Linked DNA regions of Homo sapiens: region 1 is linked to region 2. The links come from fine-mapping of genetic effects on gene expression. Tissue or cell type: whole blood. Region 2 holds a variant in brackets; the other region holds the start of a gene. All regions are shown on one strand. Distances are between the middles of the regions.

What was found. PIP is the estimated chance that this variant, and not a neighbour inherited with it, causes the effect.
Region 1: PRR29 starts here. The variant in region 2 is fine-mapped to the expression of PRR29 in whole blood (TOPMed, PIP above 0.99).

Annotation. Positions count from the first base shown.
Region 1 is chr17:63,995,720-64,001,626 of GRCh38, forward strand. PRR29 (proline rich 29) reads left to right here and starts at 2,632. Exons shown (of 6, transcript NM_001164257.2): 1 at 2,632-2,705; 2 at 2,988-3,063; 3 at 3,249-3,355; 4 at 5,365-5,591; 5 at 5,748-5,818. The coding sequence starts at 2,646. PRR29-AS1 (PRR29 antisense RNA 1) reads right to left here and starts at 4,180. Exons shown (of 3, transcript NR_126169.1): 1 at 2,606-4,180; 2 at 2,046-2,203; 3 at 352-1,544. RefSeq lists a silencer at 2,515-2,564 and an enhancer at 2,818-3,795.
Region 2 is chr17:64,017,165-64,022,164 of GRCh38, forward strand. It overlaps ICAM2 (intercellular adhesion molecule 2), which reads right to left and starts at 3,469. Exons shown (of 5, transcript NM_001099789.2): 1 at 3,359-3,469. RefSeq lists enhancers at 3,089-3,208, 3,303-3,803, 3,549-3,638, 3,859-3,908. The variant C/T (reference allele first, on the strand shown) is at 2,968.

The DNA.
Region 1 (5,907 bases), 21 kb before region 2:
ACCTGGGCACAAGCCCACAGGCATCACTGAGAGGCTCTGTGGGAGACACCTCAGAGTTGTCGCACTGAGACCAGGAGGCTGCGAGTTTAGCTATCAACTCCCATCCATTATTGCTTGTGGGCTGCTCCTGTGCCACCTTCTGGCCTGTCTTACCTGTGGCCAGGTGTCCTCAGGTGGAGGGGCTGTAGGTGAGGGCAGGAACCCTCTGCAGAAGACTCTAGGGGAGGCTGCGGGTCGGCCAACTCTGACAGCTGCTCCACAGTTGGATCTGTGTGTGTGTGTGTATGTGTATTCACACACACACACATGTACATACACACATGTATATGCATATGAATTTTTTTTTTTTTTAGATGGAGTCTCTGTTGCCCAGGCTGAAGTGCAGTGGCATGATCTCGGCTCACTGCAACCTCCACCTCCCAGGTTCAAGCGATTCTCCTGCCTCAGCCTCCTGAGTGTCTGGGATTGCAGGCACCCGCCACCACTCCCGGCTAATTTTTGTATTTTTAGTAGAGACAGGGTTTCACCATGTTGGCCAGGCTGGTCCCGAACTCCTGACCTCAAGTGATCTGCCTGCCTTGGCCTCCCAAACTGCTGGGATTACAGGCGTGAGCCACCGTGCCTGGACTTATGCATATGATTTTTAAAACAAAAATAAGATCTTACTATGCTTACTGATATTTTTGACTCAACTGTCTTGGACAACTTTTCACATCAACAGAGATATTCTATTCCCACATTATCCATGGTTGAATAGTATTCTATTGGGAGGATGCATCCCCATCAGACATTTGTTTGTTCGTTTGTTTTAGAAACTGGGTCTCACCCTGTTTCCCAGGCTGGAGTGCAGTGACGTGATCGTAGCTCACAGCATCCTTGAATCCCTGGGCTTGAGCGATCCTCCTGCCTCAGCCTCCTGAGTAGCTGGCACTATAGGCACAAGCCACCGCACCTGACCCCCTATCAGACATTTGTTACTTCTAAATGTGGTTGACATAAACAAAGGTGGACAAGAACAATCTTCCTGAAACATGGCTGGCCACAGCACTTGGTATCTCCCTTTTGCTTGAAACCCACTGATAGCTCTCCATTACCCACAGGGCCAAGCCTAAATTCCAAACCTTGGCATTCCAAACCTTGGCCTGTCCCTGGACCTCTGCTCTCTGCCCAGCTCCTCTTCTACAGTCAGACAGTTTGACCCACCGGGTCATCTCAGGTCCTGTCCATTCATACACCTGGGTCTTGGCTTGGGCTCTGTCCCCAGCCTGATAGCGCCCGTCTTCCCCTGCTGCTTGGCCCCATCAAGGACTGACTTCCTTGGAACTCCATCCCTCAGCGGTCAAGTCCTCTCTTTTTCATTATCCCCGGGGCGTAGTCTTATCTTTCTGCTCTCTTTCCATGGATACATTTTCACTTCCCAACAATGCTGGGACAAGTGACCATACTGCTTATGCCTCCAGGGTTCAGATGGCACATTGCACACGCAGACACTTCCTTGGTCAAGGTTTGTTGATGATGAGCAAAATGGCTTGTTCTCTTTCTACCTGGAATGAGAATGGAGATGGAGAGAGGCATCTCTGTGTTCTACTCACTGGGGGGCTGTGACCCCAGTGCCTGGATCTCAGCTTGTTAATGGCTGTTGAAGCCATAAGACCCATGGGGACAGTAAAGTAATGCCCACAAGCCTGCTCCCCTAGAGACAGGTACTACGGAGCAAAGGAGGAGGTGGGAATGGTCTTTCTGGTTCTTACTCCAGGACTGGCAGGAAGGGGAGCTGACATGGAGAGTGGGGGAAGGGCTACTCGGGGTGCTAAGCCCAGCTTCCTGTCTGGATTTTCCTTGACTGCTGCCGGGGGCCTATCTTAGGATGGTCACAGCTGCAGAAATAGATCTCCCCCTTCACCTGTTCTTAAGCAAGGAAGACCTTGCTAACTTCCTGTCAAAAGAACGCGTGCTTTGGTAACTTTTCCAGTACGGGAGACAGTACTGGGGACGCGGGTGCTGAAGTCACCACGATTTTCCTCGTCTGAGGAGCAGTGGCTCACCTTGGCCAGGAAACAGGGCAAATAGCCGCAAGGAGAGAGGCGAGAAGCCGGCCACGTGTTTCCAGCCAGAGTCCTCAGCCTCTTCCGTGAATTCGGGCGGTGTTTCCTTCCTTGGTCTGCTCCAGAAACCACTCTTTCCTGGCAGGAAGCCCCTCTCTCTGTCAGAGTGACAGGGAACAGACCCTTTGTCCTCCTCACTCGTCTGCCCTAGCCCCCAGCCTGCTCCTGCAAAAGTCTCTGTTTCTCCTGAACTTTTCAGCTGAGTCAATCGGGCTCTGGGACCCCGAAACCAAGCCTCCCCAGTCACTCGCTTATTCACTCAACAAACACACCCCCCTTCCCCGCACTAACCCAGGCCCAGTTCTGGGAACCAGCAAGGGGAGGGGAGGGGAGCCCCGAGCAGCGCGGCGGGAGGTGGACATGCCGGGGAGGAGACTGGCCTCCTGGTGGCGGGGGAGGGCTCCTGGGGACCCCAAGTCCGCGGAGGAGGAGACAGGAGGGAGCAGGGAGATGGAAGACCCAGGAGCACGGGCGGGCTCCGCGCATGCGTGGGAAGAGACCTTGGCGTCCTCGGCGTCGCCAAGGCAACCGGCGCCAGCCATGGCCTCTGGGGCGGGCGGAAGCTGGGGTCGCTCCCCACCGCAGAGCGCAGTCCCGACGGTGAGGGCTGAGCCCGGGAGCAGATCCTGCCTTAGCTTGGGAGACGGCAGAGTGGGGAGCTGTCCCTGGAGGGGCCAGATCCTGGAGGGGTGGGGGACGAGGAGAGACAGCCCCAAACCGAGAGGAAGAGGCGTGGCAGGGAGCAGGGAGGCCGCGGGGCGGGGAGGAGAGAACCTGGCCCCTGCGGGGTTAGGGAGGCCACTGGCCGGGGGGGTTGGGGCTCGCGACGTGTCCCCATCCATTCCCCCCACCCCACCTGGCTGACTCCGCGCACACCCCCAGCCCTGGGTCACCTTCCTGCAGCCCCTCTCGTGGGCCGTCCCACCTGCGCCCCCGCAGCCAGGCCGCGTGAAGGAAGGTGAGACTCCCGGGTCCCCCCACCCCACCCCCACCATCACCACCACTCACCCTCTTCTGCCTCGCACATCCTCTGGGAGTCCCCGCAGCACAACCCGCCAACCCATTCTTCACCCCCGGGACAGGGGTGTCAGGGGGAGGGGGACTCGGAGGCCCGGCGTGGGCTTGCTGAACCCCGCTTCCTAGACCTGCTGGAACTGATGATGCTGCAGAACGCGCAGATGCACCAGCTGCTGCTGAGTCGCCTGGTGGCTGGAGCGCTGCAGCCCCGGCCTGCCTCGCCCTGCCCTCAGGTGCGTGTGGGTGGGCCGCCGGGGTCGCTCACCTGTGGGTCCAGGGATGCGGATCCACCTGGGGTTCCTGTTCAGGGGGGAAAAGAACTGGGAGACAGAGGAGCAGGAAGCCAGCCCGTCTCTCTGGCTGGGGCTGTTTGGCATCTGTCATGTTTCAGCCTCCATGAAAGGTTGGGGCGGGGAAGAGACCCCCCAAAGTCCAGACCACCGAGGTCTTGTTTTCAAGGAGGTTTCCCTGTAGTGCCTCCCCCACTGGACTTAAGGCTCCAGGAAGGTAGGCACCCTGGTAACCCTGCCCCATGCATCATGAGCGTCTGGCCTGGTGCCTGACACCGTGTAGGGGCTCAGCTGATATTTGTTGAACGAGTGAATGAATAAATGAATGGTTAGGGATACAAAGCCAGGTTGGCTGTGATGGCACATGGAGAGGTACAAAGCACAAGTGCACATAGGGTTGGGGGATGGGGACAGGCTCCTTGGAGGAGCAGAGGATCTTAGAACCAGCCCTTGAAAGCCAGGTAGGATTTTGACCCTTGGAGGAGGCGAAGGGTGTGTCCCCCATCCAGGCTGGCAGGGGCAGAGTCAGGAGACAGAATGGGGGAAACCGTGTGCGGCAGTGTGTGTGTGCAAGAGTGTGTGTGTGTATGTGTGTGCAAGTGGGTGTCTGTGTGCATGCGTGTGTGTGTGCAAGGCTGTGTACATGCATATGTGTGTGCAAGTGTGTGTTCACGTGCGTGTGCAAGGGTGTGCGTGCACGTGTGTGCGAGCGGGTTGTGAAGGCAAGTGTGTGCGTGCAAGCAAGTGTGTGCGTGCAAGCAAGTGTGTGCAAGTGGGGGTGTGTGCAAGCGTGTGTGTGCATGCATGTGCATATAGCTCTAAGGCTGAGCCTTACTCAGCCAATAGTGGGCATCCTGAGGTCAGGAGAAGCAGGGACTGGGTGGAGAGAGAATGTTGTTCAGCTCGGAGGAGGCGGAGAGGGGTTCAAGGAATCCAGACAGAAGGAGACCCTGAGGAGCTACTGCCACCCCTCACCCCTGGGTCCTCAGTGATGACACATAGGTGGGTCCAGGGGCCGGGGGTGAGGCCGGGGACAGCTCAGTGGACTCCTGGCCCCAGCTCTGGGGGTCACACCTGGAATCAACTGGGTGGCCAAGTTGCTCAACGTCCTTGAGCTACAGGAGTAAATGTCTCCACAATTTGTTGTCCGCATGTAGTAAACGCTCAATAAACACAACCCATTCTTTTTTTCTTTTCTTTTCTTTTTCTTTTTTTTGAGACGGAGTCTCTCTCTGTCACCTAGGCTGGAGTATAGTGATGCAATCTCGGCACACTGCAACTTCCACCTCCTGGGTTCAAACAACTCTCCTGCCCCAGCCTCCCGAGTAGCTGGGACCACAGGCGCCTGCCACCACACCCGGCTACTTTTTTGTGTTTTTAGTAGAGACGGGGTTTCACTATGTTAGCCAGGATGGTCTCGATCTCCTGACCTTGTGATCCGTCCGCCTCAGCCTCCCAAAGTGCCGGGATTACAGGCATGAGCCACCGCGCCCCGCCTACACAAGCCATTCTTTTTTTTTTTTTCCTTTTTTTTCTTTTGAGATGGAGTCTCGCTCTGCCGCCCAGGCTGGAGTGCAGTAGCTCGATCTCTGCTCACTGCAAGCTCCGCCTCCCGGGTTCACGCCATTCTCCTGCCTCAGCCTCCTGAGTAGCTGGGACTACAGGCGCCCACCACCATGCCCAGCTAATTTTTTTTTTTTTTTTTTTGGTATTTTTAGTAGAGACGGGGTTTCACCGTGTTAGCCAGGATGGTCTCAATCTCCTGACCTTGTGATCCGCCCGCCTCGGCCTCCCACAGTGCTGGGATTACAGGCGTGAGCCACCATGCCTGGCCACAAGCCATTCTTACAAAGCCTATCTGGAGGAAATAACTTAGGGGAATGGAGGAGTGGCGGTGGGGAGAGCCTGATGGTAGATTCTCATTTCCCCTCCCTGTTTTGCACAATCCCCAGGTCTACCTGGAGGTTCCACAGGAAGAGCCTGAGGAGGAGGAGGAGGAGATGGACGTGCGGGAGAAAGGGCCTTTGGTGTTTCACCACCACTACTTGCCCTATTTGATGCCCTCCCCGGGTGCCCTGCTGCCCTGGCCAGCCCCCTTCTTCCCCACCCCTGCTTGTCAGCCCTACTTGCAGGACGTGCCCAGGATTCAGCACTGTCCTGCCTCCAGGGAAAGGGAGGTGTAAGTGAGGCTGGGTGCTGCCAGGGTTCTGCTCTGGGCTGGAAGTTGCAGAAGAGCTGTGCAGGGGCTGGTGGTCGGTGGAGATAACTTGTGGGTGAAACTCCAGAGGCCACCCCTGGGCCTCTGATGGGGGTCTTTTTCTTTCCCCCATCTCAGGAGAGCTGTGCCCCCACCCCCACCCCCCAGTGCCACAGGGACTGTGGGTGCTGATGTACCCCCGGCTTCAGGTAGGGCTGGGGTGGTGGGCAGCGGGGCCCAGGCCTGGGAGTGAATCAGGAGGCCAGGAGGGCCCTGTGCCCTCTGGTGGGGTTTGGGG
Region 2 (5,000 bases):
AAAACCATCGGTATTTGTATATGGCGTGACTACCCAGGTAGAAAATCCAAAAGAATCATCAGGCAAGTGACTCAAAGTAATAAGAGATTTTAGCAAGGCAACTAGCTAAAAGATCAATATTCAAAAATTGGTTGTTCTTGTGTGTATCAGTAACATACAAAAACATAATTTAAAAAATACATCAATTATAACAGTCAAAAAAGTAGAGCAAGAAAACTAACAAAACCTAGAACTATAAGACCTATAGTAAGAAAATTATAATACTTTATTGAAAAATATTAAAGACAATCTAAATAAATGGAGAGATAACACATGTTCATGGATAGGAAATTCAATATTATAAAGATGTAAATTATTCTGTAACTGATCTATAGGGTCAGTGCAATTCCAATTAACCCCAGTAGGGTTTTTCATGGAAACTGAAAGCTGATTTTAAGGTTTATATGGAAGAACAAAAGAACCAAGACGCCCCTAAAGGAAATGAATAAGGTGAGGGATTTGCTCTGCTAGATATTAAGACTTTCTGTAAAATATGGTGTTAGCGTAGGTATAGGCAAATTAACTGATGAAACAGAATAAAGAGCCCAGAAATACACCTATGCTTGTTTGAAACTTTGATGCATGACAAAGATGACATAGAAGATCACTGGGTAAGAGAAGAGCCTGTTAAATGACACAGGATCAATTGATTAACCATATAGAGAAAAAAAGGGGAAAATGTATCCCTATCTCACACCAAATATAGAAATCAATTCCATTTAGATTAAGGATTTATATGTGAAAGAAACTCTTTATAAGAAAATGTAGGAGAGTATTTCCATATCCTTGGGGCAAGACCTCGAAATTGTCAATCATAAAATCAACAATTGGTATCTTTGACTAAGATACAAAGAAACAGGTCGGGTGCGGCTGTGACGCCAGCACTTTGGGAGGCCGAGGCGGGCTGATCACGCGGTCAGAAGATCGAGACCATCCTGGCCAACATGGTGAAACCCCATCGCTACTGAAAATACAAAAAAATTAGCCAGGCATGGTGGCGGGCACCTGTAGTCCCAGCTACTCGGGAGGCTGAGGCAGGAGAATGGCGTGAACCTAGGAGGCGGAGCTTGCAGTGAGCTGAGATCGCGACACTGCATTCCAGCCTGGGTGACAGAGTGAGACTCTATCTCAAAAAAAAAAAAAAAAAAAAAAAAGACACAAAGAAACATTTCAAAGAAAAGGAAACATGTCTAAACAAGTGAAAAGATTATTTAGCTCGAGTAGCCAGGGAAATTAAAATTAAAATTACAATGGGACCGATACTATTTTATATGTATTAGGTTGGCAAAAGTTAAGAAATATGACAAGACCAATTGTTGGAGAGGCCGTAGGTTAATAGGCACCCTTCTAACTGCTGATGAGAGTGTATATTGGTGCTCTCAGAGATAATTAGGCATTATCTTGTAAACGGAATATTCTTATACCCTGTAACTCACAGTTCCATTCTTAGATGTATGCCCTAGAAACGCTGTCACACTAAGAACCAGACATGTCTTTGTGTTTACTTCTCTTTTTTTTTTTTTTTTTTTTTTTTTTGAGACGGGGTCTCGTTGTGTCGCCCAGGCTGGAGTGCAGTGGCGCGATCTTGGCTTACTGCAACCTCCACCTCCCGGGTTCGAGCTATTCTCCTGCCTCAGTCTCCCGAATAGCTGAAACTACAGGCGTACGCCACCACACCCAGCTAATTTTTGTATTTTTAGTAGAGATGGGGTTTCATCTTGTTGGCCAGGACCGTCTCTATCTCTTGACCTCATGATCCTCCTGCCTTGGCCTCCCAAAGTGCTGGGATTACAGGCATGAGCCACTGCTCCCGGCCTTACTTCTCACTATCTGTGTGACCTTGAGCAAATCACTTAATCTTTCTGTGCCTCAATTTCCTCATCTGCAAAAAGGAATCAATAATAGTATCTTCCTCATAGGGTTTTTGTGCAGATTAAACAAATAAAATAAGTAAATATTTTAAAGCATTTAGAACAGTGCCTAGCACACAGTAACGCTATATAACTGTTTCATAAAATAAAAATAAATAGGCATAGCCAGGTGCAGCAGTTCAAGACTGTAGTCCCAACTAATCAGGAGGCTGAGGTGGGAAGATCACTGGATCCCAGGAGTTCGAGGTTGTAGTGTGCTATGATCATGCCTGTGAATAGCCACTGCACTCCAGCCTGGGAAATATAGTGTGACCCCATCTCAGTAAATAAATAAATAAATAAATAAATAGAGATGCATATGTAATAAAGCACTTAAAAATAAGAGAACAATAAACACAAAATTCCAGAGGGTGGCTACCTGTGGGTGGGAGGCAAGTAGCATAAAAGTGGACAAGTGGTGGCCAGGTGTGGTGGCTCACGCCTGTAATCCCAGCATTTTGGGAGGCCGAGGTGGGCGGATCATGAGGTCAAGAGATCGAGACTCTCCTGGCCAACATAGTGAAACCCTGTCGCTACCAAAAACACAAAAATTAGCTGGGCATGGTGGCATGCGCACCTGTAGTCCCAGCTACTTGGGAGGCTGAGACAAGAGAATCGCTTGAACCCAGCAGGCGAAGGTTGTGGTGAGCCAAGATTGTGCCACTGCACTCCAGCCTGGGCGACAAGAATGAAAACTCTGTCTCAAAAAAAAAAAAAAAAAAAAAAAGCAGATAAGTGGTGTTTGCAGTTTGGTGATACTCCATCCTTGTGCTGAGTGGCAGCTTCAGGTGTGTTTGGTATATTACTGTGCAGTATGATGTATATGTATGTTACATAAGCTTTTTATGCGTTACCTAGTAAATTTTACAAAAATAATAAAAGGGAAAAAGGGCCTTTCTACGTGCCTAGAAAGAAGAGGCTTCATGGGAATGTGAGCCATGGGTTAGGAAAGACCCCCTCGAACCGAGGCAGGTAGGAAGTGAGTGACTGAGATTCATTATGAACCCACCACGCCTGC[C/T]GGGGAGAACAGGGACTGTCCCTTCCCCTCTGCATCAGCTCAGATGGTCCAGATCACAGCCCACGTGGGCCCCTAAATAAGGAGGCAGCCCCACATTTCTACATCGGCCACCGAGATGGCAGAGCAGAGGAAGGAGAGAGGGGAGACAAATCAGGAAAGGAGCGCCAGGGCAAGTGCGTGAGCTCAGAGACCCAGCAGGGCAGGGCAGGAGCTTCACAGAGTGCAGAATGTCGAGCCACAGGAGCGCTGGGGATTCCCCAACCCCTGCACTTACCAGCGAGAAACTGAGACCCAGAGAGGGGAACGGACTAAAACTCAGACCTCGACACTGCCAAAATCCTTCCCATGCTGCCACGCTTCATTGGAGGGAAAGTGAGAAGCTCAACCTTACCCCTGTGGGCTCCAAGAAGGGTAGCTCTGGGATCCCGGGCAGGAAATTGGTGACAAGGTGACAAGGTGCGCGTGTCACAGCTGCCCAGTTCACGGCTTATTCAGTCTTCTCCCTCCCCCCACTCCCCACCAGAAGTGACGTGCTTCCTGTGCCCCGGTTCCCACCCTAAACTAGCCTCATTTAGCTCCACTCCCATTCCGCTTTTTTTTTTTTTAATTGTGGTAAAACGTACACAACAGAATTTACCATTTCAATTTTTTTTTTTTTTTTAGACTGAGTCTCAGTCACCCAGGCTGGAGTGCAGTGGTGTGATCTCGGCTCACTGCAACCTCTGCCTCCCGAGTTCACGTGATTCTTGTGCCTCAGCCCGCAGAGTAACCGGGACCACAGGCACCTGCCACCACGCCTGGCTAATTTTTGTATTTTTAGTAGAGACAGGGTTTCACCATGTTGGCCAGGCTGGTCTCGAACTCCTGACCTCAAGTGAACTGCCTTCCTCGGCCTCCTAAAGTGCTAGGATTACAGGCAAGAGCCACTGCGTCCAGCCAATTTTTTGTTGTGTTGTTTTTAAGACAGAGTCTTGCTTTTGTCACCTAGGCTGGAGTGCAGTGGCACAATCACAGTTCGTGGCAACCTCTGACCCCTGAGCTCAAGTGACCCTCCCTCCTCAACTTCCCAAGTGACTGGGACTACAAGTGTGCAGCCACCAGGCTTGGCTAATTTCTGTAGTTTTTGTAGAGACAGAGTGTTGCTTATGTTGCCCAGCCTGGTCTCAAACTCTTGAGCTCAAGCAATCCTCCCACCTCAGCCTCCCAAATGCTGGGAATGAGCCACCGTGCTAGGCCCATTTTAATTATGTTTAAGTGTACAGTTTGGGGCACTAAGTACATTCACATTGTTCTGCAACCATCACCACCATCCATCTCTGGAGCTCTCTCTTTCTCTTTTCTTTCTTTTTTTTTTTTTGAGATGGAGTTTCGCTCTGTTGCCCAGGCTGGAGTGCAGTGGTGTGATCTTGGCTCACTGTAACCTCTGCCTCCCAGGTTCAAACGATTCTCTTGCCTCAGTGTTTTTGTTGTTGTTGTTGTTGTTTGTTTGTTTGTTTGTTTTGTAGAGATGGAGCCTCACTCTGTCGCCCAGGCTGGAGTGCTGGAGTGCAGTGGTGTGATCTCGGCTCACTGCAACCTCCGCCTCCCGAGTTCAAGCAATTCTCCTGCCTCAGCCTCCTGAGTAGCTGGGACTACAGGTGCACGCCACCACGCCTGGTTAATTTCTTTTGTATTTTAGCAGAGATGGGGTTTCACCATGTTGCCTAGGCTGGTCTCAAACTCTTGAGCTCAGGCAATCCGCCCGCCTTGGCCTCCCAAAGTGTTGGGATTACAGGCATGAGCCACCGTGCCTGGCCTTGCCTCAGCCTCTTGAGTAGCTGGGATTACAGGCACGTGCCGACTGGCTAATTTTTGTATTTTTAGTAGAGATGGGGTTTCATCATGTCGGCCAGGCTGGTCTCGAACTCCTGACCTCAAATGATCCGCCCACCTCAGCCTCCCAAAGTGCTGGTATTACAGGCATGAACCACCACGCTTGGCCAGAACTGCCTTCCTTTTGAAGGCTGAGCAATATCCTATTGTGCGTGTGTGCC